Regions from separate parts of the Homo sapiens genome. Here all the other regions are reported to be linked to region 1. The links are microRNA targets in miRTarBase. Many come from high-throughput screens and were not tested one by one. Region 1 holds a microRNA gene; each other region holds the end of a gene's coding sequence.

The links. The annotated mature microRNA hsa-miR-596 reads AAGCCUGCCCGGCUCCUCGGG and lies in region 1 at 4,527-4,547, opposite strand. An mRNA with a match to its seed (bases 2 to 7 or 8) in the 3' UTR can be bound and repressed. Matches are read on the target gene's strand: a 7mer-m8 pairs with bases 2 to 8, a 7mer-A1 pairs with bases 2 to 7 and ends in A, and an 8mer does both.
Region 2: the mRNA of RAB19 is a reported target of hsa-miR-596. Seed matches in the 3' UTR shown: 7mer-A1 at 4,329-4,335.
Region 3: miRTarBase lists CFAP77 as a target of hsa-miR-596. Seed matches in the 3' UTR shown: 7mer-m8 at 5,325-5,331 and 7mer-A1 at 5,250-5,256.

The regions. Positions count from the first base shown.
Region 1 is chr8:1,814,527-1,821,792 of GRCh38, reverse strand. MIR596 (microRNA 596) reads right to left here and starts at 4,562; the gene lies at 4,486-4,562. RefSeq lists enhancers at 4,595-5,262, 5,263-5,931, 6,611-7,110, 7,111-7,266.
Region 2 is chr7:140,425,734-140,430,733 of GRCh38, reverse strand. RAB19 (RAB19, member RAS oncogene family) reads right to left here. Exons shown (of 4, transcript NM_001008749.3): 4 at 2,760-4,852. The coding sequence ends at 4,584. Among named protein-coding and RNA genes, the nearest start is that of RAB19, 24 kb to the right of the region's middle.
Region 3 is chr9:132,570,828-132,578,093 of GRCh38, reverse strand. It overlaps CFAP77 (cilia and flagella associated protein 77), which reads right to left. Exons shown (of 6, transcript NM_001282957.2): 6 at 4,775-5,706. The coding sequence ends at 5,584. Among named protein-coding and RNA genes, the nearest start is that of BARHL1, 8.1 kb to the left of the region's middle. RefSeq lists a silencer at 2,785-2,854.

The DNA.
Region 1 (7,266 bases):
TGAAAATCTTTGACTCTCCGTAGTCTATTCAGCATTGTCCTGCAGCATCTAACAAGTGTTGTAGGTCATAAAAACAAAAAGTGTAAGGATTGAGGGAGGAAAAACTGATTATTTACAGTCAATATGATTATATATGTTAAAAAACAAAATTATCTACAAATAAACTATTAGGATTAAAATAGAATTTAGGAATTTCAGATGGATCATAGACTTAAGTGTAAAAATTATAAAGTTGCTAGGATAAAATATAAGAAAAGATCTTACGGATCTTCAGGTAAGACAGAAAATGGACCGACCATTTAAAAATGATTAAATGGCTTATCAAAATTTAATATTTCTACTCATCTCATGACATCATTAAGAAAATGAAAAGGCAAGCCACAGACTGGGAGAACACAGGGGCAATGCATATATCCCACAAATGGCTTGTCTTAATCCACGTTGTGCTGCTGTAACAGAATACCTGGGAATGGGTGATTTACAATGAAAAGAAATTTATTTCTCACAGTTCTGGAGGCTGGGAAGTTCAAGATCAAGGAGCCACATCTGGCAAGAACCTTCGGGCTGCATCATCCCATGACGGAAGGTGGGAGGCGGAGGTGGGGAGGGAGGATGCAAAATGGGCCAAACTTATCTTTTTTTTTTTTTTTTTTGAGACGGAGTCTTGCTCTGTCATCAGGCTGGAGTGCAGTGGTGCGATCTCTGCTCACTGCAACCTCCGACTCCCTGGTTCAAGCTATTCTGCCTCAGCCTCCCGAGTAGCTGGGATTACAGGTATGTGCCACCACACCCAGCTAATTTTTGTATTTTTAGTAGAGACGAGGTTTCACCCAAACTCATTCTTTTATAAGGAGCCCACCGCCTCAGTCATGGCATTTATCCATCCATGAGGGTCATACCCCCATGACCCAGACACCACCTAGTAGGCACCTTCCAACACTGCTGCATTGGGGGTCAAGTTTCCAACACATAAACTTTGGGGAAAACGCGTTCAAACCATAGTCCTGGTAAATAGAGAACTCCTGCAAATGAACAATAACAAGACAAGTCTATTTCAAAAGGGACAAAACAATATAACAATAACAAGCCTGTAAATAACAATAACAAGTCTATTTAAAAATAAACAAAAGACGTAAATACTTCACCAAAGATGTACTGATAGCCAACAAGAACAGGAAATAGTGCTCAGTGTTACCCAAAGTAAACTCACAATGAGATGCCACCACCGTCATCCAAGCACGGCTGAAACTGCAGACCGACATGGCAAGGGTAAAAATGTGGAGCCCCTGGAACCACTATACAAGGCGATGAGAGTGCAAATGGCGCAACCACTCTGATTAATTGTTTGCCCATTTCTCAGCAATCCCACTTTTAGGTTTGCCCAAGGCAAGTGAAAACATAAGTCCCTTAAAAGACTTTTACAGCCAGACATGGTGACTCCCACCTGTAACCCCAGCACTTTAGGAGGCCAAGGTGGAGGATTGCTTGAGCCCAGGAGTCTAGCATGATAGTCTCCACCTCCAGTCCCAGCTACTTAGGAAGCTGAAGTGGGAGGATCGCTTGAGGCTGGGAGGTCAAGGCTGTAATGAGTCATGTTCACCACCACTGCACTCTAGCCTGGGTGGACAGAGCAAGACCCTGTCTCAAAAAAAAAAAATGATTTTTACAAGAATTCTTTCTTCAAAACAGTTCAAATACTTCGCAACTGGAAACAACCCAAATTCCATCAACAGGTGAACTCATAAAGTATTGTATCTTCATAGAATAATAGAATACTAATAATACAGTAATAAAAAGGAAGAAACTGATATGTTCAATAACAATGAATCTTGAAAACATGAAAAACATAGACAAAAGGGCACATATAGTATGATTCAATTTTTATGAAATTCAAGAATGTGCCAAACCAACCTATAATAATAGGAATCAGAACAGTGGTTATTTTTGGGGGTATTGTCTCAGAAAAGACAAAGGAATTCTGGGGAGTGATGAAAACGGTGACTACATCTTGATTTGATTTGCAGACACATGGGTGTGTTCACTTTGTAAATAGAATCAAGCCGAACACAAGAGTAAGCTACTTCATGGGATATATACAGTGGCCTCAATGCATCCCCCTTGATGACTGAAAGTTCATCACCAACGTGATAGCAGTAAGAGGTGGGGCCTTGAGGAGGTTAGTGGGTCATGAGGGATGGGCTTAGTGCCCTTGTAGAAGTGCCAGGGGGCTGTTCACCCCTCCTACCAGTGAGGGCACAGTGCTCAAGGTGCTGTCTTGTGAGCAGAGACCAGGCTCTCCCCAGACACTGAACCTGTTGGCACGTTGATCTTGGACTTCCCCACGTCCAGAACTGTGAGAAATAAACTCCTGTTGTCTATAAATGACCCAGTCTCTGGTGTTTTGTTACAGTAGCAGGAACAAATTAAGTTATGTATCAGCAAAAAGGGGTTTTAAAAGCTGGGTTCCTTTAAAAAAATAATGATTCCCTTTATTGACGGAATACAAAATATCCCTTAATTAATTGCAAGCAAATTAAGTGCAAGGCCCATGCAGAGGGTAGGGATAATCTATACCCTAGTTAGGACATTCAGAAAGGAAAAAAATGGCAAAGACAGCCTGCCTGGTTCTAGGCCTCGCCTCTACTCCAGAGACGTCTCCATGCCCCACGCGGAGCGGGTGCGTGAGGTCAGCTCTAGCAGGGCCTAAAGGCCTGGGCTCTATCATCAAATAGGCCCGGGGGCTTCTGCCTCTTTTACCACTATATGGATGAACATGGGCGTCATTCAATGTCCTGGGCCTCAGTCTCCTCACTGAAAACAAGAGCAAAACCTACTTAGGCAGCATGAAGACTCAACACTTTCATGTGCAGAGACCGGTGTCAGGGCACCTGACCCCATGGACATCTCGGGGGAGCCTGAGGCACTGTCCGAAGATGGAAGCTTGTATCCACTCCTGGGCACAGTTCCTGGGTTCACATCCCAGGCACTTCCCTTACCAGCTGTGCTATCTGCATTGCTGTGCCTCAGTTTCCTGCAAAGAATTGGAAAGACATTCGCACCTACTGTGCGGGTCAGTTTTATATGTCACCTTGACCAGGTGACAGTCCCCGGTAATTCATTCAACATGGGTCCAGATGTGGCTGTGGAGGTGTTCTGTTGGTGTGCAAAAGACCCATCACAGTGGACTTTAAATGAGGAAGACTATGTTAGACAATCCGGGTGGGCCCGATTCAGCACTGGAAAGGCTTTCCAGAGAAGAAATTCCGCTGTGGGCGGTAGCTTCAGCTCTGCCCCAGGTCCAGCCTGCCCTTCCCACGGCCTGCCTGCCTGGACCTCGCTCCCAGGCCCCCATCGTGGTGCCGGATCCAGGCTCTAAATCTCTCCAGGTCTGCCTCCTACTGGCTGAACCTTGGCTGAGGCCACTTGTAGGATGGCGCCATTGAAAGGGAGATGGCATGCACACATCTCAGAACTACTCCACTCCGCAGGCGGGGAGCGAGACACTGAGCCCGGGGACGGCGAACAACCCTGGATGTGAGACCTCAGACAAGTCCCTGACCGTACTGAGCCTGCTATCTCGTGGATACAGGGTTAGTCACCAGTCCCTGGCTCTGGAGCGGCGGTGAAGATGAAGGCATCCTGGGTGCACCTGGCGCTCTGCCTGGCCCACAGCGCACGTGGGGCAGACCTCAGGCCGCAGTCACGGGGCTGCTCAGGTGCTGCGATGGGAGAAGAGCCAGGAAGTGAGTCTCCACCCAGTGCCGCTCAGTCACGGGACCCAGGTACAGCCTGGCAGAGGACAGACGGCGCTCCAGGGAGACCCTGGGGCAGCGTGGGGCTGGGGTGGGGCTGTCACACGGCAGAGGCCCTGGGCAAGTGCGGAGGCCACACGAACATGGGGTGCAGGGGGTACATGGAAATCAGAGGCCCCCTTCAGGCCTCTCAGCCTCCCAGCCTCGAGCCATGAGTTCTGTCTGGGCTCACGCAACCCCAGACGTGGCTGAAGAGGCTGGAGTGTCGACGAGCGCTGGGAAGAAGCTGCCGACCTCACTGCTCCGCGCCCTGCCTTCCCCTCCCTCCTGCCGTCCCCAGTCACCCCGAGGCATCACCCGGCCGGGCTCCCTGGGGCAACACATCCGAGAGCCCCCAGCAGGCCACACCCCTCCCAGCGCCTGTCCCCACAGGGGGCTCGGGACTTACAGGGAACAGTACAGCCTGGGGGCCATCGCAGATGCCCTCCAGGAAAGCAGGATGCTCTGCAGATAGGACGGCTGTGGCCGCTGCCCCAGGAAACAGCCCAGGACGCTGCCTGAGCTCAGAGGGTTCCGGACACAGACCGCGCTCCCCGCTTTGCAAACCACACCCAGTCCATTTCCTAGTGTGAGTTTGTCTCTACTCATCGGTTTGTGTCTTTATAAGAGTTCTAAAGTAAAACAAAAACACACAAGGACAGTGACCTAGACAGCACCCAGGGATGGGTCGGGTCGGCCTCCGAAGGGCAGCAGCTGCCATGCGGGAGGCAGGTTCCCGAGGAGCCGGGCAGGCTTCGGAGAGGCCGTGCTCGCTTTCCCGACTGTGGCGACGGATCCACCTGCTATGCGTTCCTCAGAACTCACTGAACCGCCCACGTTAATGACGCGCAGTTCGCCGTGTGCCAATGACGCCTCAATCAAGCTGCTAAACGAAGGCCGGAGCAGCCCTGCCTGTGGGGCTGTAATGTTTTCTGCAGCCTTGATGAGCCGCCCTGGGCTGTTTCAAAGGGAACGCAGCAGTCTCCTCTTGACTTCCGCAGTGGCCGTATTCCTGGGCCGTGCGGTGGGTGTGTCTGCAGGTAAACAGGGAGTATCTAGGCTCGGATGGTTACAGACGGCTTTCCCCGTGGGCGGCGTCCCGTGGGCCCTATGCAAGCTGCGCAGGCCGCCCTGGGCTCTGCCGCGAGTGCGTGGGCGGCAGGACGGTGCATCCCGGGCCTCCACCGGTCAAATGCTCCACACTGACCACCGCAGCACCCCCCCGCTCTCCCGGGCAAATTCTAAAGCTTCCCTAGCGGGGAGTTCCTGCTGGGGAACTTTCTCCATCCGCCCTCTTGGACCTCACAGGCTTCTTCCGCCTTCCCAAACGGACGCTGCACCCCGTCTCGTTAGAACGCTGCACCCCATCTCGTTAGAACGCTGCACCCCGTCTCGTTAGAACGCTGCACCCCGTCTCGTTAGAACGCTGCACCCCGTCTCGTTAGAACGCTGCACCCCATCTCGTTAGAACGCTGCACCCGTCTCGTTAGAACGCTGCACCCCGTCTCGTTAGAACGCTGCACCCCATTTCGTTAGAAAGCTGCACCCCGTCTCGTTAGAACGCTGCACCCCATCTGGTTAGAACGCTGCACCCCATCTCGTTAGAACGCTGCACCCCATCTGGTTAGAACGCTGCACCCCATCTCGTTAGAACGCTGCACCCCATCTCGTTAGAACGCTGCACCCCATCTGGTTAGAACGCTGCACCCCATCTCGTTAGAACGCTGCACCCCATCTGGTTAGAACGCTGCACCCCGTCTCGTTAGAACGCTGCACCCCGTCTCGTTAGAACGCTGCACCCCGTCTGGTTAGAACGCTGCACCCCATCTCGTTAGAACGCCGCCATGGCCTGCATGTGTGTCCGCTCCAAATCTCATGTTGAAATTGTATCCCGTGTTGGAGGTGCCTCCTGGTTGGAAGTGTCTGCGTTATGGGGGTGGGTCCCTCGTGAATAGATTAATGGAGGGGCTGTGAGTGACTTCTTGCTGTATTAGTTCTGTGAAAGCTGGATGCTAAAAAGAGCCTGGCACCTCCCCCATGCTTCCTTTCTTTTCTTTCTTTCCTTCCTTCCTCCCTCCCTCCCTCCCTCCCTCCCTCCCTCCCTCCCTTCTTTCTTTCTTTCTTTCTTTCTTTCTTTCTTTCTTTCTTTCTTTCTTTCTTTCTTTCCTTCTTTCTTTTCTTTCTCTTTCTCTCACTCTCTCCTTCCTTCCTTCCTTTCTGTTTCTTTCGACGGAGTCTTGGTGTCTTGCTCTGTCGCCCAGGCTGTAGTACAGTGGCACGATCTGAGCTCACTGCAACCTCCACCTCTGTGTTCAAGCAATTCTCCTGCCTCAACCTCCCAAGTAGCTGGGATTACAGGCATTTACCACCACACCTGGCTAATTTGTGTATGTTTAGTAGTAATGAGGTCGTGCCATGTTGCCCAGGCTCATCTCAAACTCCTGACCTCGGGTGATCCTCCTGTCTAGGCCTCCCAAAGTGCTGGGATTACAGGCATGAGCCACCGCGCCTGGCCGCCTCCTGCCACTTTCTCTCTCTGATCTCTCCGCGTGCCGGCTCCTCTTCCCCTTCCACCGTGAGTGGAAGCAGCCTGAGCCCCTCCCCAGGTGCAGGTGCTGGCGCCATGCTTCTAGTACAAAAAGGGGCCAAATAAACCTCTTTTCTTTATAAATTACCTAACCTCAGGTGTTCCTTTCTAGCAACACAAACAGGCTGAGGAACACACTGCGGACATTTCGGTGGGAGAAAACAGTGGGTAGATGTCACCAGGAAAACGGATTGCAGAAGAAGGGAAAGTGGAGGGGCAGACAGAACACACACTCGGCACACTCGGCTTCCCTACGTGAGCATGGTCCTCCTCTCATCCCAAGCTAAGAGATAGTCCAGTCCACACAGCGAGGGCTCCCAGCATAGATGCCAACACCCACATCTCACGGGGCATTCAGTGGCCTTGGGGTCTTGCCTTCCCGGCTGGAGAGCCTAGAGCGGATGGTCTGGCTGAAACAGAGGCTTGTCCCTAGCTACATAAACGAGCATTGCAGTGTGTCTCTAGGGGTTCACTCACACTAGTCTGGTCTGCTGAATTAGAAATGCACCTTGAACCAACCTGGCCATCATGGCAAGACTCGCCTCTACAAAAAAATTAATACATAAATAAAATAGCTGAGCCTGGTGGCGTGCACCTATGGTCCCAGCTACTTGGGAGGCTGGGGCTGGGGGATCACTTGGGCCCAAGAGCGTGAGGCCACAGCGAGCTATGATGGCACCACTGCCCTCCAGCCTGGGCGTCAAAGTGAGACTCTCTCAAAAACAAAACAAAACAAAAATAGAAATGCACCTTGGTAAGTAGAAGGTGGTCATTAAGGAAGGAGTGAAAAGAGGGAAATTATACGATGCCTGTGTCCGAAGAGCAGCCAGCACGGACAGCCGGCCTTCCCAAGACGGGCCCTGTAGGTGGCTTGCCTGAAACATGTCT
Region 2 (5,000 bases), not on the chromosome of region 1:
GTGCAAATTCTTATTTGTTTATTTATTTATTTATTTTTGAGACGGAGTCTCACTCTGTCACCCAGGCTGGAGTGCAGTGGCACCATCTCGGCTCACTGCAACCTCTGCCTCCCAGGTTCAAGTGATTCTCTTGCCTCAGCCTCCTGAGTAGCTGGGATTACAGGCATACGCCAACACACCCGGCGAATTTTTGTATTTTTGGTAGAGATGGGGTTTCACCATGTTGGCCAGGCTGGTCTCAAACTCTTGACCTCAGGTAACCCGGCCTAATGCAAATTCTTAACTGGACTGTGGAAGCCAGGGTTTGGCAGCTGGTCTCAGAGCTTGCCCTTTGTGAACAAAGTGAGGAGAGGAGGGTTCTGTGAGGAAGGGCAGACACTCCAGCAAAAATGAGGGACTCACATGACTCCTCTGGGGTGCAGCTTGTTTAGGGGAGCTGCTCAGGCAGCTGGTGTCTTTGTGTGGAGCTCTCTCCTCCCAAAGCCAGCCTTAGAGCCCTCCCTCCACCCGGCACCAAGCAGCCATCTCCATCCCTTCAACACCTGTCTGGGAGGCCTGGAGTGGAGGATACTTGTGAATAGAAAAACAATCTCCCAGTGGGGATGTCCCACACCAGGACGATGGCTGTCCCAGCGGTGATCTTAGGGGTTCCCAGAAGGCCACCTTCTCTCTAGATGCCTTTCTTTTCCTGTGATCCTGCGAGCTGAAGTCCTGGCTACAGTTCCAACCTTACAGCTTTATCTCTAGGTTTGTGTGTTTGATTCCCATCAAAATACGGATGTGTCAGGGAACACTAGTACTCCAGGCTGCCATTGGTCTCTGACCTGAGATCTCCTCCTGGGGGTGAAGGAGGAGGGGAAAGAGGGCGAGGTTTGCTTTCAGGGGAGGCTGCGTGGCTGCTCCTCAGAACAGGAGAGGGCTAGCCCCCACAGGAGGCTCGGCAGGCTGTTCATCTTGATCGGTGCCCGCCCTGAGTCGGCTCTGGGACACACACTGAACAGATTGATGGATCCATTCCTCAAGAATAGACTAATCAACAAAGAATGAAAACTCTGTCGCAAGACAAGAAATTTCTAAAAGGCACCTTAACTGAGAAAAATTAAGAGTGCTTCCTGATGATGGTGGAGAACCGGGAGGAGGCTTGTGCTTCGTAGGTCTCCTAGCTTTGCTCTTCTTCTCTGTGGTTGGCTTAGTTTATGGATATATTCCGAAGGTCAGAATTTAAATTCTGGCTCCTACCTAAGGACTCCTTGCAGACCAAGAAATGTATAAAGGAGCAGGAGAATAACTTAAGGCCAAGGAGAAGACCAGTCCAGGGAAAGAGCCCTAAAGACTGCCTTCCTCTCACTGAAAGGCAGATAGGCTGTGATTGGGGCCCTGATACCCAGATGCTAAGAGTGGAGCAGGGGGCTGGGCGCGGTGGCTCACACCTGTAATCCCAGCACTTTGGGAGGCCGAGGCGGGCGGATCACCTGAGGTCGGGAGTTCGGGACCAGCCTGACCAACATGGAGAAACCCTGTCTCTACTAAAAATACAAAATTGGCCAGGCGTGTTGGCACATGCCTGTAATCCCAGCTACTCAGGAGACTGAGGCAGGAGAATCGCTTGAACCCAGGAGGTGGAGGTTGTGGTGAGCCACGATCGCACCATTGCACTCCAGCCTGGGCAACAAGAACGAAACTCTGTCTCAAAAAAAAAAAAAGGGCTGGGCACGGTGGCTCACGCCTGTAATCCCAGCACTTTGGGAAGCCAAGGGGGGAGGATCACAAAGTCAGGAGATCGAGACCATCCTGGCTAACACGGTGAAACCCCGTCTCTATTAAAAATACAGAAAATTAGCTGGGTGTGGTGGCATGCGCCTGTAGTCCCAGCTACTCAGGAGGCTGAGGCAGGAGAATCGCTTGAACCTGGGAGGTGGAGGTTGCAGTGAGCTGAGATGACACCACTGCACTCTAACTTGGGCAACAGAGTGAGACGCTGCCTCAAAAAAAAAAAAAAAAAATGTGGCGCAGGGAAAGGGGGAACTGAGAGCTACTGCTGGATGAGAGGATGCCAGGAAGTCCAAGGGTGTTAAGAGGAGCAGCAGGCCAGGTGCAGTGGCTCAAGCCTGTAATTCCAGCACTTTGGGAGGCTGAGGCAGGTGGATCACCTGAGGTCAGGAGTTCAAGACCAGCCTGACCAACATGGTGAAACCCTGTCTCTACTAAAAATACAAAAATTATCCAGGTGTGGTGGTATACCCCCGTAATCCCAGCTACTCGGGAGGCTGAGGCAGGAGAATCACTTGAACCTGGGAGGTGGAGGTTGCAGTGAGCCAAGATCACACCATTGCACTCCAGCCTGGGTGACAGAGCGAGACTCCGTCTCAAAAAAAAAGAGGAGCAGCAGAATGCGGCTGGTACCTCTTTTCCCCTCCACTGGCATCACAAACCAAAGGGACCATTTGCTTTCCCCAGACCTCACACAACTTCTGGCCATGAGAAGCAGCTCAGTAAATGTCAGCTGCAATCATAAGTGGTGTTTGTCCTCCGGAAGCCCCAGGTGAGTGTCCACAGTTCCCTGGGACCCTGGAGGGGCTCCGTGGCCTGCTCCTGCTGCCTGCCCTGATGTCCCCTAACACAGTCCTGGAAACGAGGGGTGCCTGGTGACTTCCAGCCTCCTCTTACGTGTTTAGTTCTGAAAGCCGCAGTTACTCCATCCCAGAAGGCACCAGCTGCTCTCTGGCCATATCTTACAGAAGGGGCAGTACAACACTGGCTTGATATTCATCTATGAACCAATTTAATTTTAATTTAAAAATGACTTCTGATCTGGCAGATGATTTGGGTTCTAGAAAGAAATTGTGCCAGGCATGGTGGCTCATGCCTGTAATCCCAGCACTTTGGGAGGCTGAGGTGGGAGAAACCTGTGAGCTCAGGAATTGGAGACCAGCCTGGGCAACGTAGCAAGACTTCATTTCTACAATAATAATAATAAAAAAAGGCCAGGTGCGGTGGTTCACACCTGTAATCCCAGCACTTTGGGAGGCCACGAGACAGGTGGATCATGAGGTCAGGAGTTCGAGACCAGCCTGGCCAACGTGGTGAAACCCTGCCTCTACTAAAAACACAAAAATTAGCTAGGCGTGGTGGCGGGAGGCTGTAATCCCAGCTACTAGGGAGGTTGAGGCAGGAGAATCACTTGAATCTGGAAGGCAGAAGTTGCAGTGAGCCGAGGTCACACCATTGCACTCCAGCCTGGGCAACAAGAGCGAAACTCTGTCTCAAAAAAAAAAAAAAAAGGGCCGGGCATGGTGGCTCATGCCTGTAATCCCAGCACTTTAGGAGGCCGAGACGGGTGGATCATGAGGTCAGGAGTTCAAGACCAGCCTGACCAACGTAGTGAAACCCAGTCTCTACTAAATATACAAAAAAAATGAGCTGGGCGTGGTAGTGAGTGCCAGTAGTCCCAGCTACTTGGGAGGCTGAGGCAGGAGAATTGCTTGAACCCAGGAGGTGGAGGTTGAGGTTGCAGTGAGCCGAGATCATGCCACTGCATTCCAGCCTGAGTGACAGAGTGAGACTCAGTCTCAAAAAAAAAAAAAAAAAAAAAGAACAGGCATGGTGGCTCATGCCTGTAATCCCAGCACTTTGGGAAGCCAAGGTGGGCAGATCACCTGAGCTCAGGAGTTCAAGATCAGCCTGAGCAACATGGTGAAACCTTGTCTCTACAAAAAATACAAAAATTAGCCAGGAGTGGTGGCGTGTGTCTGTAGTCCCAGCCACTTGGGAGACTGAGGTGGGAGAACCTCTTGAACCCAGGAGGTAGAGGTTGCAGTGAGCCAAGATCCCACCACTATACTCCAGCTTGGGTGACAGAGTATGACCCTGTCTCAAAAAAAAAAAAAAAAAAAAGAAAGAAAAAAAATTGCAGGTGTCTTCCCCTATCCCAAGAGGGTGGCCAAGTCAGCCCTGCTAGAATAGAGTGAATTCCAGTTCCATCTCTATCAGACAGTTCCTGACCATTTGGCAAGATGGTACTTCTGGTATTTCTGCTAAAAGGCTTCGCTCCCCAAAGTGAAGACCTGAGGTGTGAATGTCAGGAACAAAATGATAGCAGCATTCTGGTTTCTCATTGCAGGCTTTCGTTCCATTCTCCCTGCCTGAGCTGTTTCAAACTGTTCCAGAATGTTCCAAACAGCCTCTTCTCTCTCTTGCTGTTTTGCCTTCCTCCTTTCCTTCACTACCCTCTTCTTCAAGCAAGAAACAAAATTCAGTAGAAAGCAGCAGAAGCTCTAGGGAGACAGAAAAGTGAAAGGGGAGAAGAGTACACTTCGTCCTCCCTCTCCTAGCCTGAAGTCCTGCCTTCTCCAGGAGTCAAGAGTCAGTGAAAACAATGGTGCTGGTTTTCCTGAGAGTCAGCAGCTATGACCTGTGGTGTGAGTCAAGGGAGAAGTGTGGCCCATCCAGACTGGGAGGATTAGGGGTGAGCGGCAAGTCCACGCTGGGGTCTAAAGCGCCACTGGGGCAACACTACGGTATCCTGGCTACCTTTGGTTTCAGAGGCGGCCTCTTTGGTGGGTGCAACTGGCTTTGCAAACATCTTAGCAAGTGCAGTGGGTCTTTTCACTTGGACCCTGGGCCATAAGAACGGGGCTGGAGTCCAGGGGGAGGCCGTTCAGGGCACTCTCCCCATATAGGTGCAGGCTGTTGCGCGCGATCAGCTCCTTGGCCATGAGCACGAAGACTTCTTCTATGTTCTTTGACTCCTTGGCAGATGTCTCCAAAACGGCCAGGAGGCCGTACTTCTCAGCCAGTGTGCAGGCATCCTCGAACAGGACGTGCCGCTTTTCCCAGAGGTCACATTTATTTCCTGGAAGGAAAAGATAAGCCGATATTCCATTGAGTAACTTAATCTGGTTTCTTTCAAAATGAACTTTACAAGTAACATTTTAGTTCTTCAATAGGCATGCATGCATTCATTCACAAATGGTCATTGAGGGCACATTTTTTTGTTTCTT
Region 3 (7,266 bases), not on the chromosome of region 1:
CCAGGATGCACTCTGTGACCTTCAGCAAATCGCCGTCTTTCTTTTTTTAAAGCAGGTCACTTTCTGAGCTGTTTTTTCTTCCAGCTGTAAGGTGGGGATATTGTTGCCCTCTTCACGTGGTTCGTGTGAGGAATCTTGGCACTTGGCTGCAGGCTCGAAGAATAGCAATTATGTAATTCATAGTACAACTGCTGTTAATAATACCTAGAGCCTTTTTCCTCTGGCAGGTTTGAGTCCTCAGGCTTGTCTCCTCAGCCCTCTCTAGAAAAGTCAGCACCCACCTTTACCCAGGGTCTTCCTACCAAAACCAGTTTTTAAGGCAAAGTGAGCAGAGGATTCGAATGATACAGGCCAGGCCTGGGTGTCATCTCTCTGCTCTGCAAACAGTGGAGTTGGACAAGGATTTGGGCAATTTGTGGGCTTCAAGGTCATGCTGTTCTTATGTGTTTTTTTTTTGTTTGTTTGTTTTGTTTTAGCTTAAAACCTCATAGAGCTCCTGAAACCAGGAAAAGAACATATTTTTTCTTTTCCTCTTTTCATCCTTCCCTCTCTTCCTACCTCCCTCCCTTCCTTTCTCCTCTCCTCCCTCCCTTCCTTCCTGTCTTCCTCCCCTCTTCCCTTTCTCCCTTCCTTCCCATTGGCTCCTCCTCCCTCCCTTCCTGCCCCTTCCCTCCCTTTCTTCCTTCCTCTCTTCCTCTCTCTTCTTCCTCTCACCCTCCTTTTCTTCCTGTTTCCCTCCCCACTCACTCCCTCCCTGTTTCTTCTTTCCTTCTTCCCTCCCTTCCTTTTTTTCTCCCTCCATTCTTTCCTTCTTCCTTCCCTTCCTCTCTCCATCCCTCCCCTCCCCTTCCCTCCTTCCTTCCTTCCTCCCTTCCTTCCTAGCATACCCTCCATCCTGTGCATCATGCCAGATACTGGTGAGTCATGGAGAGTGGGACAGAGCTGATCCACTTGAATGGAGCCCACAGAATGCATTGGTGCCCATGGATCTAAATCCCCTTCATAGATAATCTCCCATTGTACATTCAAGTTTATAAGTTACCTGCATTCAATTCTAGGAACCTGCATAAAAAGCCAACCTAGTTTTATTTTTCCTTAGTGATGATTTTAAGCATCAAAGGGTTTCCCAAGTAAAAATGAGTACAGCAAAAAGAATGATTGGGTTCATACGGATAAATGCAAGCGAAGGTGCTTGGTTGGAGACACAGACCTGTCTGGCTGCCATTGGGGGCACACCTCAGCACCTAGGCTGGGATCAGCTTGCTGCAGAGACGTGCCTTCCCTGGACTTCTAAATCTGTGGTTTAGTTGGGGCACTGGGATAGATGAATTAAAAGCCAAACCAACTCTGTGTGGATCCAGGGACCTCCCTGGGGACTAGAATTGGGTCTGTGGCCTATGAGCAGTGCTTCCAGGAGCCCCCTGCTAGGCAGGCAGCAGACATGGCTGGCCTTATGGTAGCTCATGGCTACCATTCCTCCACAACAGTGAGACTCCAGAACCACCTTCTCTCTTCTGACCAAGGAAATTGTTAATTAATTATATGGTTATATCTTAGAGAGAGAGACAGAATTAATGAAGTTTGGGCTCTAAAAATCTGGCCATGGACTGAAGCCAGTGGGGGTCAGTGTGGGAGGAGAGCTGGACCTTTCATCCGGGAAGTCTGTCCTGCCACTGTATGGATGCTAAGTAGCTCTACCACCCTTTATCTTCTCCTGGATGTTCCAAGGGGGACCTCCTGGCCCTGTCTGCAGTCCCTTGCTGGGAAGTAGATCACTTCCCTCCTGCCCAGTGGCAGCCACCATAGAAGTCAAGAGCTGAACCTCAACAGCACCAGAACCAGAGTTCAAGAACAAATCAGAAAAAAAAAAATGCAAGGGAGACAGATCCAAGGAGTGGGAGCCTCTTCAGTTAAGATTTTGTGCAATCGGTATCTCAGCCTGCCCTTTCTTCTCAAGAAATGGTGGTGGGTGAAGACTCAGCCTCGTCTCCAGGTGTCCTTAAGCCTGTCCATCTTCATGAGTCCTCTTCCCAACGGCTCCATCTCCACGCTCTGGCACCCAGTCCTGCACTTGCCCCGTCCACCTTGCCAGGTGCACATAAGTGTGGTGCTGCCTCCCTCTTACCTTGGAGGGGACTTCAGAGAATTTCAAGCAGGCCAGGTGAGGGCCCAGACCAGCTGCCTCCCTAGGCCTGTGGAAACAGTGCCTGTGGACCTCTTTGGTTAAACCTCCTATGAGGTGTTGCCAAGAAGGTCAACCAGGAGGTAGAATGTTCCTAACTGCCAACCAGTGAGGAAATTAGCCAAAACGGAGGCACAAAGTCATACCTCCAACGACACTCACGCTCACCCGGCATTTGTTGGTGCGTGACTGGGAGGACTTGGGATGGAAAGCTAGGCTATCCCCATTTCCATCCATCTTTCATTGGGAAGGGGTTTTGGGGGGCAGGCTCTGGAACGTGTCGTGGACGTCACTGGCCTGGGAGAGTTCACTGCCCTGGCTTCGTGAGTGGACTCAGGATTCCTTTCACGTCCACTTTCCACCTATGAAGTTGAGGAAATGGCAGTGGAGGGAGACGAACAAGATGATCCCCAAGGCCCTTCCAGGCTGGACGCTGTGGGGACTCTATCCAGGTCATAAAGGGCAGGTAGTTGCCCCAGCCAGGGTCAGCTCAGGTGAGGACAGGGGTTTGGCCGAGGTGACAGGATACCCAAGAAAGTAGAATCAGGCCAGAATCAGACTCGGGGCTTTGTGCAGTCACAGATAATCAATGAGGCGGGAAGAACCAGGCTTGGTGGGGGAAGGACGCCAGGAGAGAGGGAAGGGCCGGGAATCTCCGCCGCCTCTGACTCAGACTCGCCAGCAGGTGGCACTGTAGGACAAGGAGCTGAGGGTCTCTCCAGTGAGCACTGCTTCCGGCCTGGGCTGGGAGCACCCGGAGGACTCCAGAGAGCACCCAGAGTGATGCTTCCAGGGCATCTGCCACAGCCCTAGCGGGTCCCACAGCAAATGGGGCAAGGAGTGATTGGAGAAACAAAAGAGATTTCCTAGCTGAGCCTGTCCTGCCTGCCTCGGCCCAGGTCCTGGGGAAAAGCAGGCCTGGGAGGGCATCTCTGTTGCCACAGTGGGGCCAATTTTGGGTTCTTCAGGAAACTCTTCTGCCTCCTGATGTGCCCCCTCCCCTTTCCGTAGGGGATTTCAGAGCGAAAGAGTGGGCTCGATTCAAAATATCCTTCAGCTTCTGGATGTATCTGGATGAAAGCCCTCCGTCCTCGTGAGCGTCCTGGCCTGCCCAGTCCCTCAGTCACTCACAGGGCTCTGGTTGATGCCTCTGCAGTGTGAGTCAGTGATAAGAAAAAAATAATAATTCATATTAATCTATTGCTTAAAAGTGCCAGTTGCTGTACTAATCATGTCATGCACATTCTTTAATGTAATGGTCACCTGATTTAGCTTGAAGACACAGTCTGTGATGCGTGGGGTCCTGTCTCTGAGATGAGGCATAGAGAGGATAGGACTGTTGCTCAAGATCACACAGAAATTGCTGGGCAGAGCTGTGCTTCGCACTCTTTTGCGGTATGGCGTGCTACCGCCTGCTCAGGGCCAGCCCACTCAGACTCTGCCTGCTTGGGAGATTGGAGGGATGAAGGAAAATGAGTATTGAAGACTTTTGGCTTCCACAGCTGGGTAGATGGTGGTCTTACTTATGAGATGGGAAAGACGGAGGGAGAAGTAAGTTTGGCAGAAAAAAAGTCAAGTGTCTGCCTTGGCTATGGTGGTTAACAATGAATGCCAGACACCCAAGGGGAGATGCTGAGTGGGCAGTTGGATAAATGAGTCTGGGGGCTGGGCGTGGTGGCTCATGCCTGTTATTCAAGCACTTTGGGAGGCTGAGGCGGGTGGATCACCTGAAGTCAGGAGTTTGAGACCAGCCTGCCCAACACGGTGAAACCCCATCTCTACTAAAAATACAAAAATTAGCTGGGCATGGTGGCATGCGCCTGTAATCCCAGCACTTCGGGAGGCTGAGGTGGGTGGATCACAAGGTCAGGAGATCGAGACCATCCTGGCTAACATGGTGAAACCCCGTCTCTGCTAAAAATATTTTTTAAAAATTAGCCGGGCGTTGTGGCGGGCACCTGTAGTCCCAGCTACTCAGGAGGCTGAGGCAGGAGAATGGTGTGAACCCAGGAGGTGGAGCTTGCAGTGAGCCGAGATTGCACCACTGCACTCCAGCCTGGGCGGCAGAGCAAGACTCTGTTTAAAAAAAAAAAAAAAAAGAAAGAAATCCTTGGCTGGGCGCGGTGGCTCATGCCTGTAATCCCAGCACTTTGGGAAGCCGAGGGGGGCAGATCATGAGGTCAAGAGATCAAGACCATCCTGGCCAACATGGTGAAACCCCATCTCTACTAAAAATACAAAAATTAGCTGGGTGTGGTGGTGCGCACCTGTAGTCCCAGCAACTCGGGAGGCTGAGGCAGGAGAATCGCTTGAACCCAGGAGGCAGAGGTTGCAGTGAGTTGAGATTGCGCCCCTGCACTCCAGCCTGGCAACAGAGTGAGACTCTGTCTCAAAAACAAACAAGCAAACAAACAAAAAAAACCCTTAGATTAGAAATGATATTTAAAACTTGAAAATTTGCCTCCCTCAAAAAAGGTGTGGCTGGAATGTTTTGGAGGTTAGCTTACCTTGAGAGGTCTCTATGTGGCAGCACCCTCATTTGATGTCTCTAAGGCTGATTTGCTCACTGGTTTTCAAATGGAGACACAAAAGGAGGATGACAAATAGCATTTTTAATTTAAAATAGATCAGCATAAAATTTTCAGAGAGAATCCAAAGAACACACGGAAAGACCGAGTGAGGAAGTGTCCAGGAATTCGGCTGAGAAGCTCAGCAGCCTGTGTTCAGCAGTCTACCCGCTGGCCTGGAAGGCTTTTTCCAGAGTGGGTTGACCTTCCAAAGTCAGTCCTGGGGGAGGAGTCCAACTTGGCCTGCTTGATTGACGGGGCCCCAGCACTGAGGAGGCGGGGGCAGGCTCGAGTAATGAACCATTGGCTCTTCCTGCTGTCAGAGGTCCCAGAGAGATAATACTGCCGTGATGAGACATCAGGCATCCCAAAAAGAGCAATTAAAACTCATGTTTGGAATAGAAAATGAGGGCTTTCAAAGCACGTCACTGTCATGCTTTCTGCAGCAAATACACAGGTCGTTCTTAACACTTAATGGGCAGAGCCATGGAATCGACCCTTAGCCTGGAGTCTAAAAAATTGTCTTGTAATTTGGGCTTGTCTTGGCAGGTGAGGGCTTGAGAAGAGGCAGGGTGAGCCTGCCCTAGGAGGAGAAGGAGGAGGAGAGGAGGAGGCTCCAGGTAGAGGGTCACTGGGGCTAAGTGGAGACTAATGTTGGCTAACCTAAAAGGGGGGACTTTTACCAAAAACAATTAGCCTAAGACTTGAATCTGAGCTCCTTGAAGCAGAACCTGCATAAAAATGGGGGAATGTCAGGGTTGGGGCAAGATAGGGAGTCCTTCTGGGAATTTTCCACTATGTCAAGATGGCTTCTTGTGGCAGGGGAGGGAGGGGCTAGGGGTGGGTGTAGTTGCCCATCCGCAGGGTCCCCTGGCGCACGGCACACTCTTCCCGGTGGGCTTTTAATGCTCTCTGGCGATCGGCCTCCGTGGGGAACGTATCAAGGTGGCGGCCCACCTGTGGATAGAAGGGAAGAGTGGGTGGGTGAGGGGAGACTTCAGTGTAGCTCATTCCAGTTGCTCCCCTCGCCTGCCCCCTGCTTCAATCTTAGAATAATGATAAAAATAGCTGTAAGAGGGAGGAAGTCACAGCAAGTGCTGTGAGCCTCCTGGTGCTGAGCCACGAGGCAGAGAGCAGGGGCTACCTGGGGGAACTGTTCGTCCTTCTGTCCAGCTCCTTGCTGGGGAAGATACAGGCAGAACAAAAATCACCAGGCCATGACCAGACGACCACGCAATGGGACCTAGTAGCCAGTGTCCTTCATGCACTACTTTTCCACCATTAAAAACCCCAAACAAGCCACCCTCTCCAAGGGGGACCTCCTGACCCTGTCTGCACTCCCTTGCTGGGAATTAGATCACTTCCCTCCTCTCTGGTGGCAGCCACCACAGGAGTCAAGAGCTGAACTTCAATATCACCAGAACCAGAGCTCAAGAATAAATCAGAAAAAAAAAAAAAAAATGCAAGGGAGACAGATTCAAAGAGTGGGAGCCTCTTCAGTTAAGATTTTGTGCAATCGGTATCTCAGCCTGCCCTTTCTTCTCAAGAAATGGTGGTGGGTGAAGACCCCGCCTCGCCTCCTGGTGTCCACTGTGTCTGTTACATCACCTCCAAGTGCTACAAAATCCATCCCATTAACAGCACAACATCCTCCTGCCTCAGCATTTCTCCTTTGGGATAACCTAAGGGCGGCACAGGGTGGAAAGGGTTTGGGCTCACGTGCTCATTCCTGCATCTGGGCTTCTATCCATCTGTTAATTCGTGAAATGCATGTTTATTGAACACAACTCTGTGTCAGATGTGGGGGATATGGCAGTAAACCAGAGAGACTCGGCTCTACCCTCGTGGAGCTTTTATTCTAGAGGGAGAGCAGACATCCAGCAGTAACTACACAGCTATTTCATTACAATGGACAGAAGGCTGGGGAGTGCGCAGTGAGAACAAATTGGGTGGGTCCTGGGGAAGAGATGCATACAGGGGGTCTCGAAGGATGGGTTGGGATTCCAGGGCAAAGGGGGGTAGCGTGGCTGCTGGCCCTGGGGTCCAAGAGAGCTCAACTTTGTGAGGGGATGCGGCGGCCAGGTAGAGGGTGGGCAGGGCAGGTCCTGTTTGGATTTGCAGGAGCAGCCAAAGGCTCTGCAGTGGGTTCAGGATAAAGCAGGACCCATGCCTAGGACAGCCACAGGGTGCTTGTCGAGAATCCAGGCCAGGGTTGACCACCCCGGAGTGGTTAGCTAAGCCCACGGCGCTGCAGGTTAGGGTGAAGAAAGGTGACAGAAGAAGAAAAATGTGGGGAGAGAGGATGAAATATTAAAAGGGGGTAGAGGGAAGATAAGGAGGGGCTTGTAGGGAAAGTCTCTGTGCTCGGGGCCACGTGGAATCCCCCTCGGACTGTGTTTATCATTTCACAGACGAGGGAACAGAGGCCTAGGGCAGAGTGTGGTTCAGGGCTGCCCCCATAGGGAATTGGTGACCCCCAACCTCTGGACTCTTAAGTTCTGGATTCTTTCTAGAATA